Linked DNA regions of Homo sapiens. The protein of the gene in region 2 purifies or fractionates together with the protein of the main gene of each other region. This does not show direct contact. Each region holds a gene or a part of one and is shown on either strand. Other genes may lie near its edges. The genes, in order: SNX11, AREG and ADCY9.

The links.
Region 1: the proteins of AREG (region 2) and SNX11 purify together in Homo sapiens (affinity purification with mass spectrometry; 2 studies listed by BioGRID and IntAct, with this or other methods). This does not show direct contact.
Region 3: the proteins of AREG (region 2) and ADCY9 purify together in Homo sapiens (affinity purification with mass spectrometry; 3 studies listed by BioGRID and IntAct, with this or other methods). This does not show direct contact.

Annotation. Positions count from the first base shown.
Region 1 is NC_000017.11:48,117,700-48,124,146, forward strand, and holds the end of SNX11 (sorting nexin-11), read left to right. Parts: intron 1-1,004; coding exon 1,005-1,100; intron 1,101-1,274; coding exon 1,275-1,487; intron 1,488-3,535; coding exon 3,536-3,809; 3' UTR 3,810-5,902; downstream 5,903-6,447. UniProt on the Homo sapiens protein: Phosphoinositide-binding protein involved in protein sorting and membrane trafficking in endosomes. Regulates the levels of TRPV3 by promoting its trafficking from the cell membrane to lysosome for degradation.
Region 2 is NC_000004.12:74,441,162-74,448,229, forward strand, and holds the start of AREG (amphiregulin preproprotein), read left to right. Parts: upstream 1-3,974; 5' UTR 3,975-4,184; coding exon 4,185-4,245; intron 4,246-5,372; coding exon 5,373-5,621; intron 5,622-7,068.
Region 3 is NC_000016.10:3,987,376-3,994,486, forward strand, and holds part of ADCY9 (adenylate cyclase type 9), read right to left. Parts: intron 6,950-7,111; exon of another isoform or gene 6,136-6,949; coding exon 6,031-6,135; coding exon of another isoform or gene 5,974-6,030; exon of another isoform or gene 5,667-5,973; intron 5,534-5,666; exon of another isoform or gene 4,989-5,533; coding exon 4,771-4,988; exon of another isoform or gene 4,755-4,770; intron 1,722-4,754; coding exon 1,619-1,721; intron 1-1,618. UniProt on the Homo sapiens protein: Adenylyl cyclase that catalyzes the formation of the signaling molecule cAMP in response to activation of G protein-coupled receptors.

The DNA.
Region 1 (6,447 bases), on a different chromosome or scaffold from region 2:
GTTTCATAAACAACATAGTGTGGCTCGGCTTGGTGGCTCACACATGTAATTCCAGTGCTTTGGGAGGTTAAGGAAGGAGGATCACTTGAGGCCAGGAGTTTGAGACCAGCCTGGGCAACAGAGCAATACTGTCTCTACAGATACATAAGTAAACAAATAAATAAATTAGGTGCACACAGTGGCACGTACCGGTAGTCATAGTTATTCTGGGAGGCTGATGCAGGAGGATTACTTCATCCCAGGAATTTGAGGCTGCGGCGAGCTATGCTCACGTTTATGCTACTGCACTCCAGCCTGGGCAACCTGGAGAGAGCAGCTTGGAAAGCAATACCTTGTCTCTAAAATCAAACAGACAAAAATAATGTATCAGCATGGGTTTTATAGTCATAGATCTGGTTCTGATATGAGCTTTGCTGCTTATTAGCTGTGTAACAGTGAGACATTTACTTAACTTCTCTGATCTGAAGTGAGTTAATATCTTTCTCACGGGGTTTTGGGATGACTAAATGAAATCATGTTTATAAAACATTTAGCACAGTCTGGCTTGACACTTGGCATGCAGTCAATGTTAGCACCACCCCTTATTAAAAGCTAATTGGGGCCAGGCACGGTGGCTCATGCCTGTAATCCCAGCACTTTGGGAGGCCGAGGCAGGCAGGGATCACGAGGTCAGATCAAGACCATCCTGGCTAACATGGTGAAACCCCGTCTCTATTAAAAATACAAAAAATTAGCTGGGTGTGGTGGCCTGCACCTGTAATCCCAGTTACTCGGGAGGCTGAGGCAGAGAACTGCTTGAACCCGGGAGGCAGACGTTGCAGTAAGCCGAGATTGTACCACTGCACTTCAGCCTGGGCGACAGAGCGAGACTCCATCTCAAAAAAAAAAAAAAAAGCTATTTGTATTGATTAGACCTCTTTTTAAGGGATTTCCTTGATCAGAGGCCGGAATGACTATCTTAGATGTTACACTTATCATGGGTGTTATATCATGTGGCTGCACAGGCCTGTTCCTGAACTTCCTGGGAAGTCAACCTTCTTCGGCACCTCAGATGAGTTCATTGAGAAGCGACGACAAGGTCTGCAGCACTTCCTTGAAAAGTGAGTGGACAGAACGGCTGGTGCTGGCCACCAAGGGTGGAGGCAGGGGTGGAGGAATGTGCCAGGCAGGATGGAGCTCCCTGCTCAGGTAGCCAGAAGTTCTTAAGAGGATGGGGAATGGAGAGCAGTTCCTCAGGGTGATGCTCTGTGTTGTGCTACCTGTGTTTTTCCCAGGGTCCTGCAGAGTGTGGTTCTCCTGTCAGACAGCCAGTTGCACCTATTCCTGCAAAGCCAGCTCTCGGTGCCTGAGATAGAAGCCTGTGTCCAGGGCCGAAGTACCATGACTGTGTCTGATGCCATTCTTCGATATGCTATGTCAAACTGTGGCTGGGCCCAGGAAGAGAGGCAGAGCTCTTCTCACCTGGCTAAAGGAGACCAGCCTAAGAGGTAACTGGAGTACTCTTTGAGATAGCAGGGGCTAGGTTTGCTATAACCTGGACCAGAGAGGTGTCCATTTGTTAGGGAAAGTAATGTCATAGCATTGGTAGCCTTTCACAACCTTTCTTGTTCTTTGGGTGCGTGGCTTTCTATCCAGGTGGGTCTGTGTTAACCCACCACTGGGTAGCAGGGGCTCCTACTGAAACCTGGGGAGAAAGAAGGGAAAGCTTTCTCATTTATTCGGTTTTTTATTCCTCCTCCCTCCCTTTTTATTTATTTATTTTTTTGTGTGGAGACGGACGCTCACTCTTTCACCCAGGCTGGAGTGCAGTGGCGTGATCTCGGCTCACTGCAACCTCTGCCTCCTGGGTTCAAGCGATTCTCCTGCCTCAGCTTCCTGAGTAGCTGGGATTACAGGCAAGTGCCACCACACCTGGCTAAGTTTTGTATTTTTAGTAGAGACGGGATTTTGCCATGTTGGCCAGGCTGGTCTCAAACACCTGACCTTAGGTGATCCGCCTGCCTCTGCCTCCCAAAGTGCTAGGATTATTGGCATAAGCCTGGCCTAATAGCTTTATTGACACACAATTTACCTGCCATAAAGTTTACCTTTTTAGATACAGTTCAGTAGTTTTTAATATAGTCACAGGGTTGTATAACTGTCAGCCACCACAGTCAATTTTAGAACATTTTCATCACCCCGAAAGAAACCCTGTACCCATGAGTAGTGACTCCCCTGTCCTTCCCTCCCCCCCAGCTCCTGGCAACCACTAGTCTACTTTCTCTGTCTATGCATTTGTCTATTTTGGACATTTACACAAATGGAGTCATATGATTTGTGGTCTTTTGTAACTGGCTTTTTTCATCTAACAATGTTTTCAAGGTTCATTTGTATTTTATCATGTGTCATTACTTCATTACTGTTTTTTTCTCTTTTTTTCCCCCATTTTTATGGCTAAATAGCAGTCCATTTATATGGTGCTATATACCACATTTTGTTTATCCATTCACTTGCATTTATCTGTTTTTTTTTTTTTTTTTTTTTTTGAGACAGAGTCTTGCTCTGTTACCCAGGCTGGAATGCAGTGGCATGATCTCGGCTCACTGCAACCTCCGCCTCCCAGGTTCAAGCAACTCTTCTGCCTCAGCCTCCCTAGTAGCTGGGATTACAGGCACCTGCCACCACACCCAGCTAAGTTTTTGTATTTTTAGTAGAGATAGGGTTTCACCATGTTGGCCAGGCTGGTCTCGAACTCCTGACCTCAGGTGATCCACCCGTTTCAGCCTCCCAAAGTGCTGGGATTACAGGTGTGAGCCATCGCACCTGGCCTTTTTTTTTTTTTTTTTTTTGAGATGGAGTCTTGCTCTGTTGCCCAGGCTGGAGTGCAGTGGCACGATTCAGCTCACTGCAAGCTCTGCCTCCCGGGTTCACACCATTCTCCTGCCTCAGCCTCCCGAGTAGCTGGGACTACAGGCGCCCGCCACCATGCCCGGCTAATTTTTTTTGTATTTTTAGTAGAGACGGGGTTTCACCGTGTTAGCCAGGATGGCCTCCATCTCCTGACCTCGTGATCTGCCCACCTCGGTCTCCCAAAGTGCTGGGATTACAGGCGTGAGCCACCACGCCCGGCCTCTTTTTTATTTTTTTAAATTGAGATAGGGTTTCACCAGGTTACCCAGGTTGGTCTCCACCTCCCAGACTCAAATAATTCACCATGCCCAGCCATTTTTTTTTTTTTTAATCGGGCAGCCTCCTGAGTCAGAACAGGCTCAGAGAGACTTCCCTTTCTGTTCATTTTTGTTTATATGTTCATACTTTTTTTTCTGAGACAGAGTCTCACTCTGTTGCCCAGGCTGAAGTGCAGTGGTGTAATCATAACTCACTGCAGCCTTGACCTCCAAGGCTCAAGCAATCTTCTGGCCTCAGCTTCCTGAGTAGTTGGGATTACAGGCACATGCCAACATCCCTGGCTAATTTATTTTTTTGTAGAGACGGAGTCTCCCTATGTTACCCAAGCTGTTCATACCTTTCTTTTCCCTTTCCCACTCTTTTCCAGTTGCTGCTTTCTTCCAAGATCGGGTAGGAGGAGCTCTCCCTCACCGCCTCCCAGTGAAGAAAAGGACCATTTAGAAGTGTGGGCTCCAGTTGTTGACTCTGAGGTTCCTTCCTTGGAAAGTCCCACTCTCCCACCCCTCTCCTCACCATTATGCTGTGATTTTGGAAGACCCAAAGAGGGAACCTCCACTCTTCAGTCTGTGAGGAGGGCTGTGGGAGGAGATCATGCTGTGCCTTTGGACCCTGGTCAGTTAGAAACAGTTTTGGAAAAGTGAGCTCTGGGTTCTGCTCTGAGATGGTCAGAGAAGATGCGGGCCAGGAGACTTACTCAGGTGGGACTGGGCACAGGGCAGGTATGTGGGAGGCTGGGCTGCTTAGTGTCTTCTAGTCACCTCTGCTTGGGCTGATTGACAGAGGTCAGTCATTACAGCCCCTTATGCCTCTTCCATGGGAACAAATACTGTGCAGATGTTTGTAAGTTAAACATAAGACACAGGGGCTGTTGCTTTTGAACAGAACCCTATATTACTCTCCTGGGATCTGAGTTTCTGCAGGTCATTTGTATGTAGGACCAGGAGTATCTCCTCAGGTGACCAGTTTTGGGGACCCGTATGTGGCAAATTCTAAGCTGCCATATTGAACATCATCCCACTGGGAGTGGTTATGTTGTATCCCCATCTTGGCTGGCTTCAGTTTTTGCTGTAGCCCTAGAGCACTTTGTTTGTGGGAGGCTGGCCTCTTGCCTACCTCCTTGCATGGACAGGGGGATGAATATTTACTTTCCCACCTCCTTGCTTTTTCTTTCACTGATACCACTGAATGGAACTGGTGCTGTGACTCCTGCTGCTGGGGATTTATGTCCCGAGACCTTAGCCTGGCTGAGTGGAGCCTGAGACCTGCACAACAGCTCATGGTCATGCATGAGAGAGAAGTGGCTGGCCACAGCCAGAGGGAACAGTAACAGCCCAGGGGCCTTTATTTTGGGAAAGGCTGTCCCGGGCTGTTACTGTCTCTTCTGGTTATAAAGCAGACATGTGGCCATCTTTTCCGCAGGGTTAGAGTGGGCTCCTTTCTTTTTGGAATCCTTTTCTTCTCCTTTGGTAGCAGCTCCCTGCCTCCAGGGCTTCCGCCACCAGCGTCTCTGCTGTGTTGCGCAGTGCAGTGGGGTGCAAGGGCTTTGTTTCTGCCTGCCTGAAAGAGAGGGCTCTGGGGATGGAGATGAGAAACAACACGCTCTCCTTCAGACAATGAGGCATTCTGTCCTCCTGCTGCCATTCTTCATCTCCACTGAGAGCCAGAGCTGGTAGGAGCCGAGTGCCACAGGCATTCTGCATTGCTCTACTCTTAGGTTTGTGTGTGTGATCCTTCCCCTCCCTGTCGCCCACTCCTCCCTCCTCTGGCTATCCTACCCTGTCTGTGGGCTCTTTTACTACCAGCCTATGCTGTGGGACTGTCATGGCATTTAGTTCAGAGTGGAGGGGCTTTGGCCTGAAATAAAATGCAAGTATTTAAGATTGTTGTTGCAATTTGTGTCTAACAAGCTGTAGCAGAGAAGGAGGGAGTGAGCGCTGGCAGTATTTCCTTTCATAAATCATGAATTTATCAGTGTGGAAATAATGCTTCAGAACTGTGCTCTGTAGCCCTCCTGCATTGTGTGTGCAGCTCAAGTTCACCACTGGAGGAAGGATTGTCTTCCAAAGAGCTGGGATCCAACTCTTCTCACAGTTCTGGGCGTGAACCTTGTTAGGTATAATTTACCTGATGCTGCTTCCATCCTCGCAGTCTGTCTGAGGTGCCAGGTGCTGAAAGAGAAATAAAGTTTGTCAACAGGCAGATGCAAAGCCCTGGCTGGTATTCATCCCTCTTTCCTGCCCGCCTCCCCTGGGTCTCTCCTTTATATGATGCAGCAGAGCAAGGCGAGGATAGAAAACCTACAGAGGCAAATCCAAAATGTCAGAAGAAGTTCATTTAAAAGGGGAAAAAAACTCCATGTGCAACCCTCACAAAAACCCGACAGATGCTAAGCTAATGGCATCCGCTCTGCCGATTGGTGGGGATGGCTCATGAATATTAATGAGCCCAATGCTCCAAATGGTGCAGCTGTGAACCCAGCTGTGCCTGAAGCTCTCTGATCTCGAAACTTCCAGACAGGAGCTGGAGGTGGTCTGTGTCAATTCCCTACTCAGCCAAAAAAACAGCAAGCTGGGTTGGCCTTCTTCTGTTTGCTCCTTTTCTTCCTGGAGTTGGTGCTCAGCAGCTAGTTCTGCCAGCCGGCTAGGCTGCTGGGACAGCAGGAGCCATTCAAAGACATGGATGTGATTTTTCTGACTCCCAGCTTTTTTAATGATCCATTAGCAGCATGCATACAACAGCACCTCAGTTAATCTAAGGCCAGGCACCATCTCTTTTCAGTCTCTCTCTTAACTGAGTATAGGCCTTGGAAGGAGAAGTCCTAGGAAGGAAAGCACTTTTCTAATAATACAAGCCTAGGGTCATCCGAAAAATAGCGCACATGAGTTTTCCTCTCCATCCAGATAGTGCCATAGGCCCCTCTTCTGTTTTGCTCTGTCCCTGCGTGTGCCCAGGTCTAGCCACTGTGGCCAGATGACCTCTATGAAAGATGGAGGATTAGCTGTGGGGAGTGGCTCATTGAGCTGTTTTGTAGGATAAAAATATTTTGTTTAGAATTTAGTTTTGAGTCAAGTTCTGTCCTGATGTAGTCACCTTTCTTCTGTCAGATACCTCCATGGCCCACATCTAGTCATCCATTACCCAGGATGACTGATTCCAAGCTTGTGGAGGTTGTTTGGTGGGAGGAAATGTGTTTGTGTGTGAGGGGGGTGTTTTCTTACATTAAAATACTAAGTTTTATAAACATAATTTTATTGGCCCTTCTCAGTGCCTAGCAAGGAA
Region 2 (7,068 bases):
GAATTTTTATCTCTAACCTATTGTAAGAAGAGAGTATACAATACATATAACACACAAAATAATGTTAAACAACTTTATATTATCAATAAGTGTTCTGGGCACCAGTAGGGAATTAGAGGTTAAGTTCTGGGGGAGTCAAAAGTTATACATGGATTTTTCTCATGTCAGGTAGGCACCCTTTCACACCACAGTGTTAAAAAGTCAACTGTAATTTGACTTTATTGGTATATCAAGGTACTCAAAATGCTCAGTTAAGGCTTCTTTTTGAAGGAACTAAAAATTATATATATATATATATATATATATATATATATATATATATATGTATTTTGATACAGAGTCTCACTCTCTGTCACCCAGTCTGGAGTGCGGTGGCATGATCTTGGCTCACTGCGATCTCCGTCTCCCGCATTCAAGTGATTCCCCTGCCTCAGTCCCCACTCCTGAGTAGCTGGGACTACAGGTGCCTGCCACTGCACCCGGCTAAGTTTTGTCATTTTAGTAGAGACAGGGTTTCATCATGTTGGCCAGGCTGGTCTCAAACTCCTGACCTGAGATGATCCACCTGCCTTGGCCTCCCAAAGTGCTGGGATTACAGGCGTGAGCCACCGTGCCCAGCCTGATGGATGTATTCTTCAGTATGGATAAATTATAAAATAAAATGAACATTATATATATATCTAAATGGAGCTAGTGCATTTATTAATAATATAGGGAATGTTGCTTATACATTGGAGGATTTCTTAATTCTGGTTTGGAGGTTTGCGTGTTGACTCATAAAAGTAACTGTGATGCAATACTTACTCACTATAGGACTATCTATAAAAATTCAATATCAATTATATGAACATGATTGTACTTTTGGTTTTATAGTACATCTTTCAGCAGAGCCAAAGTGAAATCATTTCACTATTCATATGAAATATCAGGACTCATGGAGTAGGCATCAAACTGAGTGGTTAGGAGCATTTGCTCTTAGGGCTGCCCTTAACCTATACATAGATTAAGGGACCATCAATTTATCATGATAAAAAAGGGCTGCTACTCAAACTTTTTGAAATTGTTCCCCTTTGTCTCTGCCTAGCATGCAGAATGTTGAATGTAAAGAATCCTACATTTACACAGGGTTGGTTTCCAACTCATGCATATATTCCAGAATGCCATGACACATCAATAGGTGCTGCAATGTGATGTGGTTGTGACGACGCTCCATGCTGCCCAATGATGCACCATAAAATACCCAAAATGGTTAGTCTTAATGTGAAGTAAATACTAAGTTCATGGATTGAAAATATTGAAGATTACTTCACTTGCTCTGTAGCTCCATTTATAAGAGTCCTTCAGTTCTTAAATATGATTTACATAGTGTAACTATCATAATATCAAGGGTATTCATGATAGTTGCCATTTATTGAGCACTCACTCTATGCTAGGATCTGGTATTGTTCATGTATCTTATCCATTTGATCTGCTTAAAAGCATGTAGTTATCTTTATTTTTTATTTTCAGATGAGGAATCTGAATCTTTCAAATATTAAGTAACTTAGTATGTGCTGGAATTTGTATATGAAAACCCACATTGGTTTGAATCTAAAGCTCATCCAAAGCACTAAGCTATGCTGTCCCCATGATCTAGGTTATGTGCCTAGATCATGTAAATGTTCACCCTATAAATTTCCAACTGGAAAAAGACTAAGCAATTTCCAATATAAACAGTCCACTTTCCCAAAAGTGAAACATTTCTGATGACTGATCTGCACAATGTGTTTTCATCTCAATAAGAAGAGTAAGAAAATGGAAAGTATTGCATATGTTAAATAGCTTGATTTAACCTCATTGTATACATATATCAAAACATCATGTCATATACTACAAATATGAAGTTACTTGTCAATCAAAAAAAAAAAGAAGAAAAGAGAAGAACAGGCCTAGAACAGAAATGAAGCCTATGGGAGCATAAAGGTGCAACAGTGTAGACCAACTGCGTGAGCTCCAAACAAAGTCTCCAAAAGAATCTTTTGAAATCTTTGGGCAAGTCTCTCAATCTCTCTGAATCACAATTGCCTCATCCACCAGAACAGATAACAGTGCAGGCCCCTACTTCACTTTGGAATGGGCATGACACTTTTCTAGCCTTATTTCCCATACTTGGTCATACCCTCACATCAGGTCTTTATTCCATGTAAAAGATTTGCTGGGAAGGCCTTTGAGGGGCCTCTTCATCTTTCCACAGAGCTTTCCATTAAACAGAGGCAAAATTAAACCATGTCCTTTTTTTCCATGGCACTCTGAACCCTTCTCATCATGTGATCTATTAGAATTACTTATCTATGTATCTGGCCCACACCACTGAGCTCCTGGTGAACCTATACTGCTCCCCTTCATAAAATATAAAGCAGGTGGCTCACACAAAATACACTCTCAACAAATGTGGAATAGAAGGCATGATTCATGATTATTTCATTCTACTAAATGCATGATATTATTTGGACTACGCACTGTGATATACCATTAAAAATAAGTGATTTTTAAAAAAAAATTTCCAGAATTAGGACAGATGCACTGTGACTCACGTTATTATTATTATTATTATTATTATTATTATTATTATTATTATTTTGAGTCGGAGTCTTGCTCTATCACCCATGATGGAGTACAGTGGCATGACCTTGGCTCACTGCAACGTCTGCCTCCCGGGTTCAAGGGAGTCTCCTGCCTCAGCCCACCCGAGTAGCTGGGACTACAGGCGCGCGCCATCACGCCCAGCTAATTTCCTTTGTATTTTTAGTAAAGATGGGGTTTTGCCATCTTGGCCAGGCTGCTCTCGAACTCCTGACCTCAGGTGATCCACCCGCCTCGGCTTCCCAAAGTGCTGGGATTACAGGCATGAGCCACTGCGCCTGGCCTGACCTACATTCTTAAAAGGGCTGTGTTACTGAAACAATCAGGAAAGAATCATATCTCCAGGTGAAGGAAAATGAACAATGCTTTTTCTCTTCCTCAAGTCAAGAAAAATCCAGTTCTTTAGTTGACAGTACATCCAAGTTAGTCAAATTAAGTAGCTTCCTGTCTCCGCTTCATTTTATCTACTTGTCATGATTAAATATCCTACTAGGTTGTAAGTGGGCCCTCAACGCTGACCTTTTTATCTTGGGATTTGAGAGGCACAGTCTAGAGCACTACTCTTCACCTAAATGCCAGTATGCCACCAGTAGAAATTATCCTTTAGGCTAAATATTGTTCTTCCCAGAAACCCTCTTTTCAAGGATCAGTTTAAACCTAAATTCATCAGAGAGGAAAACAGCAGATTTCAGAGTCAGATGAAGAATTCATATCCACCTGGCTTTGAACATTATCGGCTGTGAGATGGTGTAGGTAAAATTTTAAGTGCATAATTTGGCAATAATAAATCATCAATAAATATTAATGTTGATGAGGCCCCTGGGCCACATAAAGAAATAGGGAGTGAGGGGATTTGAAATTCTGGCCACTTCACAGAAATGGGTGGGAAGGGGCTCTTGATTGAGATAGAAGCCCATCCTACATGAAGCAATTCCTCATTGAGTTCTCTCGTCCTTTATCCTTGTTGGAAACATCAGGCAAAGTCACTCTTGGTCTTAAAGTACTTTTACATCTAAATACGGAACTCTTCTATTTAATCCCTGTCTGTTGTAGATGTTAAGTATACAAAGAGGTTGTCAGAGTTTGAAACATCTGGACTTCTGTCAGGTACTAGCTCCGGAACTCCAGTCCTGCTCGCCCTCAAAAACGGCTTGCAGCTAGAGGTTTAAGTTCCACTTCCTCTCAGCGAATCCTTACGCACGAGGGAGGCGGGGCGTGTGTCCTCCGCGCGTGGTTTTCGGGTAGCACCTTCTGGGGCGCCGCCTGCCTCCACCCACGGCCGGGCCTTGACGTCATGGGCTGCGGCCCCCTCCCGGCTGAGCCTATAAAGCGGCAGGTGCGCGCCGCCCTACAGACGTTCGCACACCTGGGTGCCAGCGCCCCAGAGGTCCCGGGACAGCCCGAGGCGCCGCGCCCGCCGCCCCGAGCTCCCCAAGCCTTCGAGAGCGGCGCACACTCCCGGTCTCCACTCGCTCTTCCAACACCCGCTCGTTTTGGCGGCAGCTCGTGTCCCAGAGACCGAGTTGCCCCAGAGACCGAGACGCCGCCGCTGCGAAGGACCAATGAGAGCCCCGCTGCTACCGCCGGCGCCGGTGGTGCTGTCGCTCTTGATACTCGGCTCAGGTGAGGATTCACCGGCGCTGAACTGCTGGGCTCTCCTCCCATGGCAGGTTTTGCCTCTTGAGTTTGGCTCTTGCTTCTCTAAAAATCGCCCTTTAGTTCCCCCGACCCTGCGCCGCAGGAGGTGATCACTGTAGCTCCCTCCCTAGGAGGAAAAGAGAAGGGCAGATGTCTCAAACGTCCAGGACAAGGTGTCCCAGAGAATCGCTGTACTTTTTCTTTAGTTCAGCTGAGAAGACGGGAGAGATCATTTGAACCTAACCCTTCGTTTCACAGATTAAAAGATTAAAAAGACCAAGATCTAGAGAGGTGAAGTGATTTCCGCAGATATTGGACCCAGCAGTGTTTGCTGCCTCCTGCCTAATTCTCCATCTCTGTCTAGTGATTTCTTCTTTACCTTCCTAGAGGGACTTAGAGTATCCCGGCGAGAGGTTAAAAGCACCACTCTGATGCTGTTTTATTGAGACCTAAGAAAAAGCAAGATAAAGCAGTGGCTTAACTCTGGGCCCCAAATCTTACTTAGTACTCAGTTTATTGTCTATGTAGTAATAATAATAATGATAATGAAAAATGACAATAATAATCGATATAATTAACCACTGTTTATATTATTTTAAAAGATTATCTTTTAAAAATATCTTTTAAAAATATGAACACATCTTTTAAAAATATGAACACATCTTTTAAAAATATCTTTTAAAAATATGAACACATCTGAAGAAAATCTGATATTTGTATCTAAAACCTACCGAAATAGGCCAGGATGGCATTCTAGCAAAAAAAGAAATGCATTTGGAATGTGAAGTGATGGGAATTTTTAGACATTACCCATCAAGTAATTGTATTAGATTAATTTGCCAATTTGGCGGGATTTTTTTGATGTGGAAATTAATGTGGATTATCTGTGGAAAAGAAAAACTTCAGAAAAGCACTTCTGTAATTGGGACAGCTGAATTTGCTTGCTGGCAAAAATGTAAAGTTTCTTTCATAGAAATGACTCAATCACAAACAATAGCACATGTGCAATAACTGCTTTGATGTCAAAAGATAAACTTTTCTACCTAACACAGCTGACTCGAAAGGCACCCTACTTTACCTTTTCTTTTCTTCCTTTATTCCCTCCCCTGCAGGCCATTATGCTGCTGGATTGGACCTCAATGACACCTACTCTGGGAAGCGTGAACCATTTTCTGGGGACCACAGTGCTGATGGATTTGAGGTTACCTCAAGAAGTGAGATGTCTTCAGGGAGTGAGATTTCCCCTGTGAGTGAAATGCCTTCTAGTAGTGAACCGTCCTCGGGAGCCGACTATGACTACTCAGAAGAGTATGATAACGAACCACAAATACCTGGCTATATTGTCGATGATTCAGTCAGAGGTGAGTAGGGGATAAAGCAAAAATATGGCCTGTGAGATGTGGGTTTATATGAGCAAAGCTGCTTCAGAAGTAAAGCTGCTCCCCAGATTTTCTAGTGGCTTTATTGTATATCTGTTGGATAGCCCCTAGGTAAACTGTGACAAAAAGAACCATAATGTGGGCACATCCTATATGGCCAGAGTGATCATAAATGGTGTATGTCTCATTTTTAAACCTAATCTTCACAATGACTTTAAGTAGGAATTGTTATCCTCATTTTACAGATGTGATAACTGAAGCCGAAAAAGGTTTTGCTCTAGGTTCTACAGGTGACAAGCAGATGAGCTAGAATTAGAGCTCCAGTCTGTTTGATTCTATGCAGAAGAGACACTAAGCTCTTTCCCACTATGCTACATGACCCCCATTCTGAGAGACAAATTTAGACATTAACCATTCCTATCTACTTTGTATCTTAGCTTTTGTATCCCCTTCCCCAACACCACCCTTCCCCAGATAACTGCATTTTAACACAAATAAGGGGACAAGGAAGTAATGGGACAGGAGGCATTAGACTTTAGCGTTTAAGTACTAGGTGATGAGAAGCTGATGGAATAATAATAATAATGCCATCTGGAAATATTAAAGAAGGGTGAATATACTTAGATTTTGTATTGCTAAAATCACTCTTTAACCCCAAATCCCATTTGTTAGTTATATAACCCATGGTTTCTTTCACTTTCCTGTTATCTCATATTTTAAAAAGGCCCTTTGCTTGGAGTGAAAGTACCAAAGTAAGAGAGAAATATTGCATACTTTGGAGTCTGAAGGAAGAAGAAGTTAACAGTAAATAAGATCTAAATATCCTAAGAGCATCCACTACAGAGGCAGGGCAAGATGGTTTCAGAGCTGTTGAAGGCCTTTTCTGTCCTGACTTGAGTTTCCCTGGCTTCTCCCCCTCTTGTCTGGTTCTCAGAACTGGTGAAGGGACATCAAGTGGTACCAGAGGGACAGTGACTTGGGTGAGTGGGAAGTGAGAAAACCTTTAGCGAACACTCCACTTAATTCCCTTCCTTCTCAAAGTGTGCTTTTCTGTGAGGTGGGTAAGGGGTTCATTTGTGCTTATTTTTGAAGGCATGAGATTAGACCCATCAAGGTGTCTAGAAACTGTTCTCTTAAACATGTTTCAAGTTGTTAACACTTCAGAAGGCCAAGTAAATGATTAGTAGTACAAATGATGACTAGTGCTCAAAATTGCAATGCATTGTGAAATAGAGTGAAAATGTTGGCTGAACACCTTCGAAAGGCTAAGTTAAATGTCCATGATGTTAGTGCTTATCGCAACACTTCAGCATAGTGACTTTTTTATTTGCCTCTGTCTATAGTTTGTAATCTATCTGACAAAGTGAAGTTACAACGTTCATTCAAAATATTTCTCTTAAAGGACTTTTCTGTCTTGTGCTTTTTTATC
Region 3 (7,111 bases), on a different chromosome or scaffold from region 2:
CAGCAGTGCAGGGCGAGAAGCGGCCCGGACGCCTGGTTTGGCAGCCAGACCACTCGTGTCCGACCCCGGCTATGGGACCACAGCCACCTGTTCAGCCTTGCTCAGCGTCAGCTCTTTGGTAAAAGGAGGATAATCATCAGCTTCCCTACAGCATTGCTATGAGCATTAAATGAGACGATATTTTGCCTTACGGGCCACCAACCAGCCAACTGCCAACTTGCAAGTCCACTCCGGGAGCCATGTCTGGGACATTAACGGATATTCACTGTCCCTTGGAGGCTGACGGAAGGGGGCACCTCCCACCCCACGAGGCATGAACTGGCTCTACTGGGCTCACCAGGGTCTCTCTAGAGCCCAAGCCAGGACACCACGGAGTTTAATGAAGACCTGCTGGAGGAACCAAGGGAATCAGAGTGAGAAATCCCTTTTGTTCCGGGTGGGGAGGGCATCCACTCTTGACTTGGGAACACTCAGAGGTTAGGTTTGGGCCCAGAGGAGAGAATGCAGTCTGGAAGCCGCCAGGATTCAAACCAGGCTCTAGGTTCTTGTATTATTCCTTCCAGCAACCCCCTAAGGAGCACTTGTGAGCGCTGGGACTCTGCTGGAGGCTGTGAGGAGGGGCTGGAGGAGAGAGATGGGTGTTGGGACTGTGCTGGAGGCTGTAAGGAGGGGCTGGAGGAGAGAGACGGGGGTCCTACCTCACAGAGCTGAGCATCTAGGGAGGGAGGAACACGAATCCAGAACCACACACGGAAAGATTCCAAAATGGGGCACACACGGAGAAGGAAGTGTATGAAGGGAAGTACAATCCAGTCTGCAGTCGGGGAGAGCTTCTTGGAGGAAGTGGGATTGGGTGATGGGCTGAGAAGTCAAGTACAAGGGGTTAAGGCGGTGGGGGCGGGAGAGGGAACATGGAGCCGGAGTTAGAGAGAGAGGTGAAGGCCTCCTGGGCCCTTCTCAGGGGAAGAAAGCAGGGAGGGCAACAGAGAAGAGTCTCACCCAAGACTCCAGGACAGGTGGGACGGGGGCTCTTCCAGGGCAGGTCGGTGGGGAGTTCCCTTCCAGGGCAGGTGGGGGGTTCCCTTCCAGGGCAGGTGTGGGGGATTCCCTTCCAGGGCAGGTGTGGGGGGTTCCCTTCCAGGGCAGGTGTCGGGGTTCCTTTCCAGGGCAGGTGGGGAGGGGTTCCTTTCCAGGGCAGGTGGGGGACCCCTTCCATGGCAGGTGGGGGGGGTTCCTTTACCAGGGCAGGTGTGGGGGCCCCTTCCAAGGCAGGTGGGGGGGTTTCCTTCCAGGGCAGGTTGGGGGTTTCCTTTCAGGACAGGTTGTGGTGGGGGGGCCCCTTCCAAGGCTGGGGATAGCCTGGAGATGCCACGGCAGAGGAAAGGGGCTAGTAATGGCGAGGCTGCGCTTTAAGACAAAGGACTAAAGAAAGGGTTTTTTTCCTCCTTTGCAAAGAGACATTTCATGTACAGTTGCCACTTAGGGTTTACAGAGTGTGGGAAATCAATGTTCGCCTTCGTGTTCCCATCCCTTGGTAAAGCACAAAACTAACAGTGAATGACCATGTGAGAACAACAAACACATTCTTTAGTAAAAGCGCAAGGAGAAATGAACGCACCTCTTCCTGATAGCTGGTCCTGTAGGATCGCTCCAGCTCCTGATCCAGGAAGTTCAGGCTGAACTGATTAATGGGCGGCTTAAAAAAGTAATCTTTCATCAGGCTAGAAGACACAACAAATGCAGTCGATCAATACCCAGCACCATAACTGTGCCAATGTTTTCAGATCATAATTAGCTACCAAAACGCTGCTCATTAGGTATATTACAACAGCTGCGTCTAAAAGCGCCTGTGGAACAGACGCCACTCAGCTGCCCCTTGTTAAAACAGATCTGTGGAAAGTCCTTCGCACCTCAAAGCATAATCATATTTTGTGTTTCACCTTCGTTAAAGAATGACCATCCACCATGATTATAGCACACATCATCAGAACCTTGGTTTTTTGGGGTTTTTTTTTTTTGAGGCAAGGTCTCACTCTGTCGCCCAGGCTGGAGTGCAATGGCGCAGCGATCTTGGCTCACTGCAATCTCCGCCTCCCAGGTTCAAGCAATTCTCCTGCCTCAGCCTCCTGAGTAGCTGGGATTACAGGCGCCTGCCACCGCACCCAGCTAATTTTTGTATTTTTTAGCAGACGCGGGGTTTCACCATGTTGGTCAGGCTGGTCTCGAACTCCTGGGCTCAAGAGATCCACCCATCTCGGCCTCCCAAAGTGCTGGGATGACAGCGTGAGCTGCTGAGGCTTGTTTTTGAAAACACATTCCTAATGTCTAGGATTAGGAGAAGATGAAGGCAGCTTTTCTGTTCTTTGAAACAATCTTTTGTGAAGAACACGCAGATCACTGTGCTGAGAGTACTTACATGGATTTGGAGGCTTCAAACGAAAACATAATTCAGAACCGGCGGTCCTGTCATTCAGAGCACTGACAGTAATTGCCACCGTAAAAGCTAACAGGTTGTTATCACAAAATTGTGTTTATAGTTAGCGTAATTTTGGTGCTATTGTCACATATGCAGATTGCATGTGAAACCTGCAGAATGATAAAGCTCAGTGATTTTAATAGCAGGGAAATCAACCCCGCTTTCCATGACTCTTTCATTCATTTATGAATTGCCAGCAAATAGTAATATCCTTTCTATACTGCAGAAAATTACTAGAAACTAAGGGAACGTTAACATGATTTCAGAAAGCAAATATAGCTGTGTTAGCCTCTCTCCCTCATACAGTGACTATCAGAAGTAAATTAGACGAGGCTGGGCGCGGTGGCTCATCCTTGTAATCCCCAGACCTTTGGGAGGCCGAGGCAAGCGGATCACCTGAGGTCAGGAGCTCGGGACCAGCCTGGCCAACATGGTGAACCCCCGTTTCTACAAAAAATACAAAAATTAGCCAGGCCTGGTGGCAGGTGCCTGTAATCCCAGCTACTCGGGTGGCTAAGGCAGGAGAATCACTTGAACCTGGGAGATGGAGGTTGCAATGAGCCAAGATGGCGCCACTGCATTACAGCCTGGGTGACACAGCAAGACTATGTCTCAAAAAAAAAAAAAAAGAGTAAATCAGGTGAAATATGTCAAGTGCCTCATGTGCCCCCCACACAAAGTACGGCTCATCACGTGTGTTCCTTCCTGTCCTTGCAGCACGGCGGACACTCTCCTTTCTGTGACAGGTATCCAGTAACTTCCAACATTCTCAGACTCAGAAGAGAAATAATTCTGTCCCAGGACACTGACCCTCTCTCCTCCCCTGACTCAGGGAGTGTGGACTGAGGGAAGAGCAACCACGCAGCTGCAGAGAGGATGTGCACAAGGCCACATTTTAGCAGTCAAGTGGCAGAAGCGACACTGCTATTAGCTGTGCTGCTCCATTTATTTCTTATTTGTTTTTTGAGATGGAGACTCGCTCTGTTGCCCAGGCTGGAGTTGCAGTGCTGCGATCTCAGCTCATTGCAGCCTCTGCCTCCTGGGTTCAAGCGATTCTCCTACCTCAGCCTCCTGAGTAGCTGGGATGACAGGCACCCGCCACCACGCCCAGCTAATTTTTGTACTTTTAGTAGAGACGGGGTTTCACCTTGTTGGCCAGGCTGGTCTTGAACCCCTGACTTCAGGTGATCTACCTGCCTCGGCCTCCCAAAGTGTTGGGATTATAGGCGTGAGCCACAGCGCCTGGCTGAAAATCACCCTTTGAGGCATTATAGTGAAGACAGAGGCAAGAATCATCAATGAATGTTAAATCTAGGGAATTCTGATGGGGAATGAAATATGTACAAGATCTTCAAGTATTTTCTCACAGATTGCTTATTAGTCATAAGAGGAATATAATAACCCTAGATGAGACAACCCGGCACCACCTTGCCTAATTAATCAAAATTAGTATCACTAATGAGGAACAGACGGGCACTGCGTGTCCCTGGAGAGGACACCCTGAGGAGGACACGGCATCCCTTCTGCAGTCTCTGCCTGGCCAGAGGGAGAGCCTGAATCTAACCAATCCAACTTCAGGAATATTTGATAAAAGGACTGGACCTGTATTTTTCAAAAATGTTACCATTAGGCCAGGCACAGGCTCACACCTGTAATCCCAGCACTTTAGGAGGCCGAGGCGGGCAGATCACCTGAGGCCAAGAGTTCGAGACCCGCCTGGCCAACATGTTAAAAACCCATCTCTACTAAAAACACAAAAATTAGCTGGGCATGGTTGTGTATGCCTGTAGTCCCAGCTACTTGAGAGACCTAGGCAGGAGAATTACTTGAACCTGGGAGGTGGAGGTTGCAGTGAGCCGAGATTGAGCCACTGCACTCCAGCCTGGGCAACACAGCAAGACCTAGTCCTTATAAAAAAAAAAAAAAAAAAAAAAAAAGCCAGGCGTGGTGGCTCACGCCTATAATCCCAGCACTCTGGGAGGGTGGGGTAGGTGGATCACCCGAGGTCAGGAGTATGGAGACCAGCCTGGCCAACATGATGAAACTCCATCTCTACTAAAAATACAAAACCTAGCCAGGCATGGTGGTGGGTGCCAGTAACCCCAGCTACTTGGGAGGCTGAGGCAGGAGCATCGTTTGAACCTGGGAGATAGAGGCTGCAGTGAGCCAAGATCGCGCCACTGCACTGCAGCCTGGATGACAGAGCGAGACTCAGTCTTAAAGAAAAGAAAAGAAAAAGGCAGAGAGGCTTCTGCCTGCAACCTTTGCTTTTTCCCAGACAGCCCCAGTCGTACCTGTCTTCTTTGATAACGTCCACAAAGTGGGCGTCCGTTTTCTCCCGGATGTTCTTGAACCTCAGCGGAAGGAGAGCCGACTGGTCCAGGCTCACCCCTGCCCACCTTCCCTTCTCCTGCAAGATCTCACACAGAGAAGTCTGACTGTTGGTGAGCTTCTCCTCTTGGGGAGGGCTGAGGAGCCCGTTCTGAGTTTTGGGATTAGGTCCTCCAGAAGCCTGCCTCGAGACAAAGAGGACGCAGACACGGGAAGTGAAGTGGCACCGGGCACTGGGCACACACGCCTGTCCCACCCCGACCTCCGCTGCGGGGCGCTGCTGCACTGGGCGTGGGACTTTCTGACCTGCGAGGAACCCCCACCCCCCTGCGCCTACAGACCTGCTCCAATCCCAGCCCTGACTGCCCGTCTGCTCCTTCCTGTTACCCAACAGTGCCCAGTGGTAACGCTGGGTGTTCAGGCTGCCAGGACATTGAGACATGGGAAGAGTCGGTGCGGAGGTGGAGGGGAAGGGAGGAAAGTGAGGAGCCGAGGCCCCCAGAGTCTGCTTAGGCCAGAACCACGGTTCTGGGAGCAGGGTGCATGGGTCGGGGGTCCAGGAGAAGTATGACGAGGGGTCCAGGGCTGTCAGGGCACAGGCAAGGTGGATGGAAACGGGCTCGTGTCGTGGGTGTCCCCCGTGGCTGTGGGAAGGCATGGGATGACCTGCACCTGCAATCCTTTGGCAGATGGAGAGCAGATGGAGGACGAGAGCCCGCGCCCCAGGTGAGTCGCCTGCATGAGCCCCCGCCGACAGGCTCTCGCGGGTGGGCTGAGTCCTGGCCCTGGTGTCCAAGTCTGGTTTTCCTGAAAGCCTTCCTGCCACCGGCCCTAACTCCCAACCTCTCTCTTCACCCAGCCTTTCTCGCCGTGAAGACCCCCTCTTGTCTCTGCCCGTCTATATTCTCTCATAAACTGAGTCCAGCTTCCAGTACCACAAATCCCCTCCCGGCACTCGAATCCACGCATTTTAAACCCTTATTGGCCTTTAAAGGAATCCCGCCCAGCTCAGCCCCTGAGCGCTGGTTTCCACGTGGGTTGCTGCTGACCCTCCCTCGAGCTCCCTGCCGGTCTCTTCAACACCCGGAGGACCCGCGGGTGCGGAGTGCTGTTACCCAAGAGGAGTTACTCTCAGAACTAAGAAGTCGACAAGACAGGAATGTCACCTTGGGTGGATGCGCCAGGAGAGGAACTGACAGGAACAACAGCCATGAGCTTGTTACCTTGGTGCTGTTTTTATGCTCGTCTTGGCAGCCGTTTTGAGGTGCTCCTCCCTCGGCGCCGGCTTCAGATTTGGGAGCAAATGTGATTCCGCACGAAGGGCAGGTCTAGAAGAAAAACACAGACTGTGGGGACACACCCAGAAACCGCGACTGCCACCCTGAATTCAGGCAGGTCCGCTGTTGCCATCTGCCGTCACGCAGCATGGTGGTGAGCAAGGGGAAGGCACACAGAACCGCTCGGGGATGAGCTGAAAGCCAACGGGCAAAGTGACAGTGGAAACACACAGAAACCCGGGCACGAACGCAACAGGACCCAAAAATGGAACCGGGAATGTTCACTGACTGAACAATGGATCAACAAACTGTGGTCTATTCGAACAATGGGATATTACTCAGCCACGAAAAAGACGGAAGCACTGACGCCTGCCACAGCATGGTGAACCTCGAAAACATTATGCTCGGGGAGGGAAGCCAGACACAGCACAGATATTACGTGATCCCGTCTATGTGAAATATTCAGAAAAGGTGAATCCTTGGAGGGAGAAGGCAGATTCCTGGCTGCCAGGCGGGACCGGGGGCAGGAAGGGGGAGTGGCTGCTAAGGGGCGTGGGGTTTGCTACGATTCGAATGTTTGTGCCCCCTCAAAAGTCAGACGCTGAAATCCTAATTCCCAAGGGGATGGCATTGGGGGGCAAAGCCTTGGGAGGTAATTAGGTCATGGGGGACAAGCCTTCAAAATAGGATTAGTGCCCTCATAAAAGAGGCCCCAGAGGAATCCCTCGTCCCTTCGCCCTGGGAGAAGGCACCATCTGTGAAGCAGGAACGGGTCCTCACTGGACACTGAATCTTCCGGGACCTTGATCTCGGACTTCCCAGCCTCCAGAACCCTGAGAAATACATTTCTGTTGTTTAAAAGCCACCTGGTTTGTGGTATTTCAACAGGGTTTCTCTTTGGGATGATAAAAATGTTCTGAAATTGATCACGGTGATGGTTGCACAACCTTGCTAAATATACTAAAAACCACTGAACTGTACACTTTAAAAAGATCGATTTTTAAATATTTTTTGAGATGGAGTTTCA